Linked DNA regions of Homo sapiens. The protein of the gene in region 2 interacts with the protein of the main gene of each other region in a biochemical or structural test. Each region holds a gene or a part of one and is shown on either strand. Other genes may lie near its edges. The genes, in order: RIGI and DHX16.

Evidence for each region.
Region 1: the proteins of DHX16 (region 2) and RIGI form a complex in vitro, tested with the Homo sapiens proteins (one study listed by BioGRID).

What each region holds. Positions count from the first base shown.
Region 1 is NC_000009.12:32,515,951-32,519,772, forward strand, and holds part of RIGI (antiviral innate immune response receptor RIG-I), read right to left. Parts: intron 1-3,822.
Region 2 is NC_000006.12:30,655,769-30,659,590, forward strand, and holds part of DHX16 (pre-mRNA-splicing factor ATP-dependent RNA helicase DHX16), read right to left. Parts: coding exon 3,704-3,822; intron 1,325-3,703; coding exon 1,184-1,324; intron 992-1,183; coding exon 829-991; intron 742-828; coding exon 623-741; intron 498-622; coding exon 430-497; intron 1-429. UniProt on the Homo sapiens protein: Required for pre-mRNA splicing as a component of the spliceosome. Contributes to pre-mRNA splicing after spliceosome formation and prior to the first transesterification reaction.

The DNA.
Region 1 (3,822 bases), on a different chromosome or scaffold from region 2:
TTCCGTCCCAGGCTCTTTCTACTCACACTCCAAAAAGCAATCTTGAAACTGACCACAGTCCCACAGACATTTATTCCAGAAAAACAGAAATTGACCCTTCTGGTCTTTAAACTTGAAGCTTACACTTGTTTTATCTGAGATCCTTTCTCAGGCAAAAGACCACCAGGCCTCTCAAAAAGTATCAAACTGAAATTCACCAGATTATCACATCCAGACAATGAGGCCAGGCCCCTCATTCATCATGATTGCTTCCTGAGTTCCTGTTTTCCCACACAGTTACATTTCTTCCCTGCTATATAAACCCCTAATTTTAGTGGGTCAGGGAGATGGAGTTGAGACTAATCTCTCATCTTCTTGGCTACAGCTCCCAATTAAAGGCTTCTTCCCTGGCAATACTTGTTGTCTCCCTGTTTGGCTTTCTGTGTGGCTACCAGGAGGACCTAGGCCAAACCCCTGGTGCTTCAGTAACAGATTTTTGTGGCTGGGTTGCTGTGGTCTAGGAGTCTCAGAAGCCCTCCTAAGCAACTGCCCACCCAATTTTGGCTGGAAGTGAGTTTTGGTCTCTCTGGCCCTGCTGCTGCCAGCCCCAGCTGAGTTCCTGATTGCTAGGAAGAACAGCCTTTGAAATGTGACACTGGCATCTGGATAAGTGAGTGTCCTTTCTTGGCCCAGACAGCAAGATCTGCTCAATTTGAAAATTTTAAAAGGAGCTTCCATTTGCAGGTTAAACCAGCCCAACTGACTAAGAAAGGGAAGCACCCTGACTCTCAGTATGATACTCTAGAGAGCGTGTTTGTAATTTCTGTGTTTGTGTCTGGCCAAGTTAGTGTCTTTTTTGGGTACCAGACAGTGGGATCGGCTTCTCTCAATTTGGAAAATTCCTAAGAAATTTCTGTTTGCAGGTTAATAAAGCCCGATTGAGAGAGAAAAGCACCTCGACTGTTTCAGTTTGGACACTGTTCGGGCTTGTCTATTGCTTCAGCAGTCGGATTGTGTTTTGTTGATTGTATGTGTCAATATAGTAATGGGAAATTAGAATTCAACAAACAAATATTCTTTTGTACTACGTTTGCCCCAATATTCTTTGGAATCTGGAGTTGGCTGTTGAATGGGAAAGCCAGGTGGAGTCCCATGTATTCTGGCTTTTATGCCGCTGTTTTAAGCAGGGTTGGGCCTGGTGAGTAGTTTCCACATGACGTTCTTCTGTAGTGCTGTTTGGCCCCAGGTTTCTTTGGAATCTAGCTTCTAAAAATCAAACTGCCATGGAAACTGCTTTACCCAAAATTCTGGTTCACAGCCTTCATTGGATTACCGATTGGAGCAAACAAATTTTAGCCATGTGGACTTGGTTGTAGATTCGTGAGTTTGTATTGCTATCTCATGGCTAGAGTTCCAAGGTAAAAGCTGTTGGATCTTTGTGTGTGTATACATGTTTAGATGTGTTTATCTAGATGTACATTAACTATGTTATACACTATACCTACCAAATTGGCTTATAAATAAGAGTGCTCATAAATTAAGTCCAAAGTGTTTTTCAAGTTCACATGACTTCAGTAAATCTTTAATAAACAAGCTGTCTTTAAAATTATTGGTAAAATAAAAATAGAAATGTCTTCAGAATTGTCAGCATACATTTTTGTCTCGGCTTTATATTTGTCTCAGCTAGATAATTTGAGGTATCAGAGTTTGGCAGCAGGTTATAAAGCTATAAACCCAGTGAATATTTGTGTGAATTCTTTATAAGACTAATTTAATGCTGTTAGTTTAATGAAAACAGCTGAATCTTCTGAGTTATTGATCAAAATGCCCACGTATTAATTTTAAGGTTATTTAGGTGAACACCTGACATTCACAGGTTATAAAATGGTTAAGAAGGAAATGATGCAGAAATAATCTAGATAAACTGCTAAAAATAAATAAAATGTAAATGGTCAAATGCTGTAAATGAACTTTTGGCATAATCGGAAATATAATCATTGGATGTTTGAGTCATTTCCAATTAAGAAAAGGTTATGATGTGGGGAACATGTTTCTAAAAATTGTGGAATGGTTCTCATCTATAAAATACTAATATCTGCTAGGCAGCTCAAGATTTCTTGCTTCCTAGGTTTTTACTGAAATTTAAGGTTGTTACTAAGGATAAGAATTCTAGTTCATATGTAATTCTATATATAAAATGTGCAAAAGACAATGTGTTTTTATTCAGAAAAAAATTTTATCTAACTCAGAAGTTATCTAAAGTTTATTAATAATTATGGACTTGAAAGGTTACTTATGAAACAAGGTAGAAAAGAACAAGTAGACGAGAGAGATGTGGAGAAAGTTATGAGTATAAAGATGTATTTTTGGTAAGGAAGGTTATAAAGAAAATAATTTTGTATGACAAAGCATCTTATAATGGTATTTTTTTTGTCCTAAAGTAAAATGACTGTTTAAAAAAAAAAAAAGAAGAAGAAAAAGAACGAAAATCCAGGACAAATCAGAAAGTCTAAGCATATCATAGATGGTGTGTGTAAGTCATGTAGTTTCTTTCCTATTTCTTTGTGTGTCTACCTTTATGTACAGACAGAGAAAATACAAAGTATAAAAGGCTTAAATAATATTCTCTTAAAACCAGATAGAATATTGGAGAAATCTGGCTAATTAACACTGCTCATAGTTAAAGCTCTTAGTCTTGATGAAAGTAAAATAAGAAATATTGTAAAGAAACACATTGGCAGTTTGGCAATCCTTTCTTAATATAGTTAACCATGAAGCCAGATAAAAGCCAGATATAGCAACAACCAAATTTCACCTACATGCTTGCATTGCTTCACACTGTATTTGCTCTTCTGCATAGATATACTATCATTACAGTATAATACTTACTGGTCGGCCTCCTCCAGAGTAGCTGGGATTATAGTTGTGTGCCATCATGCCTGGCCAATTTTTGTATTTTTAGTAGAGATGGGGTTTTACCATGTTGGCCAGGCTGGTCTCAAACTCCTGGCCTCAAGTGATTCACCCATCTTGGCCTCCCAAAGTGCTGAGATTACAGGCCTGAGCCACCACGCCCAGCCTAAAGTGAATTTCTTAATTGCACAAAATATATAGTGGTATTGGTGAACTTAAAGACATTAAATTGTGCATCAGGAACAAAATATTCATCATGTGTTTTTTTGGCTCTGGGTAACACTATAGCCTCCAAGTTAAACTGAGTAGAAAATTTTCAGGTTGGTTTCCTGTTTGTTTTTTCTTTTAATTTGCATTTATTTGCTGTTTCTTCTTCTTTAGGTTTTACTTATATATACATATTAATAAAACCATTGATGGCTTTTAGTTTCTAATGTAAGGAAGGCTTTTATTTGGTTCCATGAATAATCATTTTGTTTCCTATGCATTTCCAGTATCTCATCATTTGCTCTACTTATCCAAAGTTCCTAAGCTACCTTTTTCAAGCTTCCAAAAATTGTTGGTGGACACCAGCCTTTAAAATTTGTTTGGTTTTGCTTACCTCTAATGAACTAGAGAGCTATAAGAACTTTAAGATTCCTGGCAAAAAATAATAAAAGGTTTATTCTTCTAAGTTCTGAACAGAAATAGTACATTATTATTGGTTATTTGGAAAAGTAGGTGAGAGAAATGTTTAAGTGGTGTTTATTTCCAAGGTAATTCAATTCAATAAACAATAGCGGTTTCAGATCTTTTCCTTTAATGAGGCAAAACTGCTATATGGGTACAAAGTCTTAATATTCAGAAAAAAATTGGCTTTGTCTTTAAGGAAATTATATTGATTGGGCTTTCTCTCAAACTAATTTAGTTGTGTTTACTATTATTAAGATT
Region 2 (3,822 bases):
GGAAGTAGGGGCCATAGATGAAACACAGTCACAAAGGAGGGACATCCATGGAGGCAGGAGCAGGAAACACCGGGGAATTCTGAGGCTTCTGCAGAAAGTGTGCATTCACTATGTGCATTTGGAAAAGATCTCTGACAGCAGAGGAATGGCATTTAAAGGTCATCCCTCCACAGCTACATCTAAATGTTCTAGTTGGAAACCTTAGGAACAAGTAAGTTCCTCAAGGGGCCGGGCGCAGTGGAATCAAGGATAGGATCAAGTGTCTTACCCTTGTGGGCCTCAAAAGGGGGCAATCAGAGTTATCTAATACTTTATTATGTGTTAAGGGATAGTATGATGAACAGAAAAAGACAGACAAAGGGGACCCTGGAGACAGAGGAGGCCTGGCCTGTTTGTGTGCTGGGGGCCCAGGTGGAGGCGAGGGCTTACTTCTCAGAGGCTAAGATCATTTTGGACAGCATGGGGTCCACCGGCAGCTCTGCCATCTTTCGACCAGACTAAGGAGAAGAGAGAGAGAGTTGAGCCCAGTCCTCCCTCAGGTTTCCCGCTACTACTACAGGGGTCCCTGGAGCCATCCTGACCCCTATCATCCTGCCTCCACCCATGCTGTCCCCCGACTCACCGTGGTGAGCTCCCCAAGGTGGTTGAGGGCTCCCAGAGCATACAGCTGCTCCAAAGCCAGCAGCAGTGTCTCATATGGTGGAGGGTCCAGGAAATCAAAGTGCATTAGGTCATGGATCCCTAGAAAGAGGTGTGATGGATGGAACAGAGTCCCTTCAAAGGACAGTGACTCCAGCCCCTCCCTCCTCTCTCAGGTAGCCCAATCACCTAAGCTCTTGAGCAGCAACACGACATTGCCCAAGCTGGTCCTCTGGATCTCAGGCACTGTGGTTTCCTCAAGCTCGTGCTGATAGGCCCAGGCGGTATACAGGCGGAAGCACTTCCCTGCAGCCACCCGACCTGCCCTGCCAGCTCGCTGATTGGCTGAGGCCTGGAAAGAAAGGGGAACAGGCTGGCTGACAATTTGGTCAGGGAAAAGAAAAAGGCAGTATTTATGCAAGAAATCTGGAAGGATGCAAACTGCTCATCCCGGTTCCCTAGGAAGCCCCCACCCTGCTTCTGAGTTGGACCTTCTCTGTGGGCCAACTCCACCTCCCCCACTCCCATGCATCCCCAGGCTGACCTTGCTGCAGGGTGTGACAGTGAGCGATTCCATGCCTGTGCGGGGGTTGTAGCTCTTCTGCTTACAGAACCCTGGATCCAGCACATAAATGATGCCCTCAATGGTGAGTGATGTCTCAGCAATGTTCGTTGCCACAACCACCTGAGTGATAGGATATGGGGTCACCCAGTGACCCCACCTACCTAGTTACCCAGAAAAAGTAATCTTGGAAAGTTAGGAGTAGTGAAGCAGTTGCAGTAAGGGGCAGGAGCTGAGGGAATTAGTAGTATCCAAGGTCAGGAGCAGGGGACAAGGCCAGAAGACAGGGGACAGGGAAGTGGGGGCTGGGAGTCAGCAGGGCCATAGGAGGAAAGGAAATGGAGAAGAGGATTTAGGGTTTTTTTTTTTTTTCAGAGATGGGAAATGGGGGTGTTCAAGTTCCTGCCCGATCCTCCCCATCACCGCTTTCGTCTTCACACAACACTTCCTGTAAGAGCCTCCTAACGTGTATCCCTGCTTCTGCTCCTAGCCTCTGTCACATGGCATCCAGGATGGTCCTTTTAAAATACAAACCTGTCACATCACTCCCCATCCTTCAGTGGCTTCCTATCCTACTCTAGAATTCAATCCAAGCCCCTTAAAAGCCTGGATCACCTACCCCAGCTGCCTTTCTGACCTCATCTGCTAGCACTCCACCACCTCCCTCACTCCTCCCACACACTGCTTTGCTCTGCCCAAGTAAGTGCACTCCTCACTGGATCATTTGCATCAGCTATTCCCTCTGTCTGGCATACTCTTCTCCCAGATATCAGCCTGGCTCCCTCCCTCACCTGGTTTGGGTCTCTATTCCACTTTCCCCTTACTGAAGAGGCCCTCCCTACACCCCAAGGAAAATACCTTCATGCCAGTCCTCACTCCCACCCCACAGAGTCAAGTTCCATCCTACTATGCTGCCTTGTATCTCTTCATAGCACTGGCCACAAATTGACAATATGTATTTATGCATCCACTGCTTCCCCGATAGACCACAAGTGCAAGTTTGTTAGGCTAAGGACTTTGTTTTGTTCATCACTGTATCATCAACCCCTGTGTACCTGACACACAGAAGGAACTCATTAAATATTTGTTGAATGAAAGTTATATCTCTGCTCAAAATCCTTTGACTGCTACTCAGCTGTCTAAAGTCCAAACTTCGCCAAGCACAGTGGCTCATGCCTGTAACCCAGCACTTTGAGAGGCCAAGGCAGGCGGATCACTTGAGTCCAGGAGTTCAAGACCAGCCTGGCCAACATGGCGAAACCCCATCTCTACTAAAAATTAGCTGGGTGTTGGCCAGGCATGGTGGCTCACGCCTATAATCCCAGCACTTTGGGAGGCCAAGGTGGGCAGATCACCTGAGGTCAGGAGTTTGAGACCAACCTGGCCAAAATAGCGAAACCTCATCTCTACTAAAAATACAAAAAATTGGCCAGGCGTGGTGGAGGGCACCTGTAATCCCAGCTACTGGGGGGCTGAGACAGGAGAATCGCTTGAACCTGTGAGGCAGAGGTTGCAGTGAGCAGAGTTGGTGCCACTGCACTCCAGCCTGGGCGACAGAGTGAGACTCCATCTCAAAAAAAAAAAAAAAAAAATTAGCTTGGGGTGGTGGTACACACCTGTAATCCCAGCTACTTGGGAAGCTGAGGCACAAGAATCACTTGAGCCTGGGAGGTGGAGGCTGCAGTGAGCCGAGATCTTGCCACTGCACTCCAGCCTGGGCAACAGAGCGAGACTCTGTCTCAAAAAAGAAAAATAAATAAAGTCCAAACTTTCCTGTCATCAAAGGCCCTCCCTAATCTTAGCCCCAAATTGTTTTTAGCCTTGTCTCCTACTCCTTCACCACATGAACCTCCCACTAAGCCTACTAGCTCACACTCTGACCTCAAACATACCTTGGGCCTTCCTCTGATGACTTCTCAGCCATTTTTCTTTTTTGAGATGGAGTCTCGCATTGTCACCCAGGCTGGAGTGCAGTGGCACAATCTCAGCTCACTGCAACCTCCTCCTCCTGGGTTCAAGCGATTCTCATGACTCAGCCTCCTAAACAGGTGGGATTATAGGCGCACGCCACCATGCCCTGCTGATTTTTGTATTTTCAGTGGAGGCAGGGTTTCACCACGTTAGGCAGCCTGGTTTCGAACTACTGACCTCAAGTGATCCGCCCACCTCAGCCTCCGAAAGTCCTGGGATTACAGGCGTGAGCCACCGCACCTGACCTCAGACATTTCTCTTAAAGGTCCATATCAAATCCCACCTCTTAGCACATCAAGGACTTCCCTTCTCCACTGAATCTACTGTGCATACTTTCCAGATCACATATTTGGCTCTCTCTTGGTTCACACCATATTTCTCCTCTCTTCAGTCCCAGGAACAAGGGACTGGCTGCTCCTCAGCTGTGTGCAGCAGTGCGCAGGACTCACCTTGCATGGGGCAGGCACACAGCTTTTTCACTACTAGTTGTGGGAAGCATAGGGGTGAAGAGTGTGGGTTTCTCCAACTGACCTTTCGTGCCCCAGGTGGTGTGGGCTGGAAGATACGGGCCTGCATGTCAGAGGGCAGATTGGCATAAATGGGCAGCACCAGGAGCTCCCGGATTTTGGAGCCCAGGCGGCGGCAGCGAT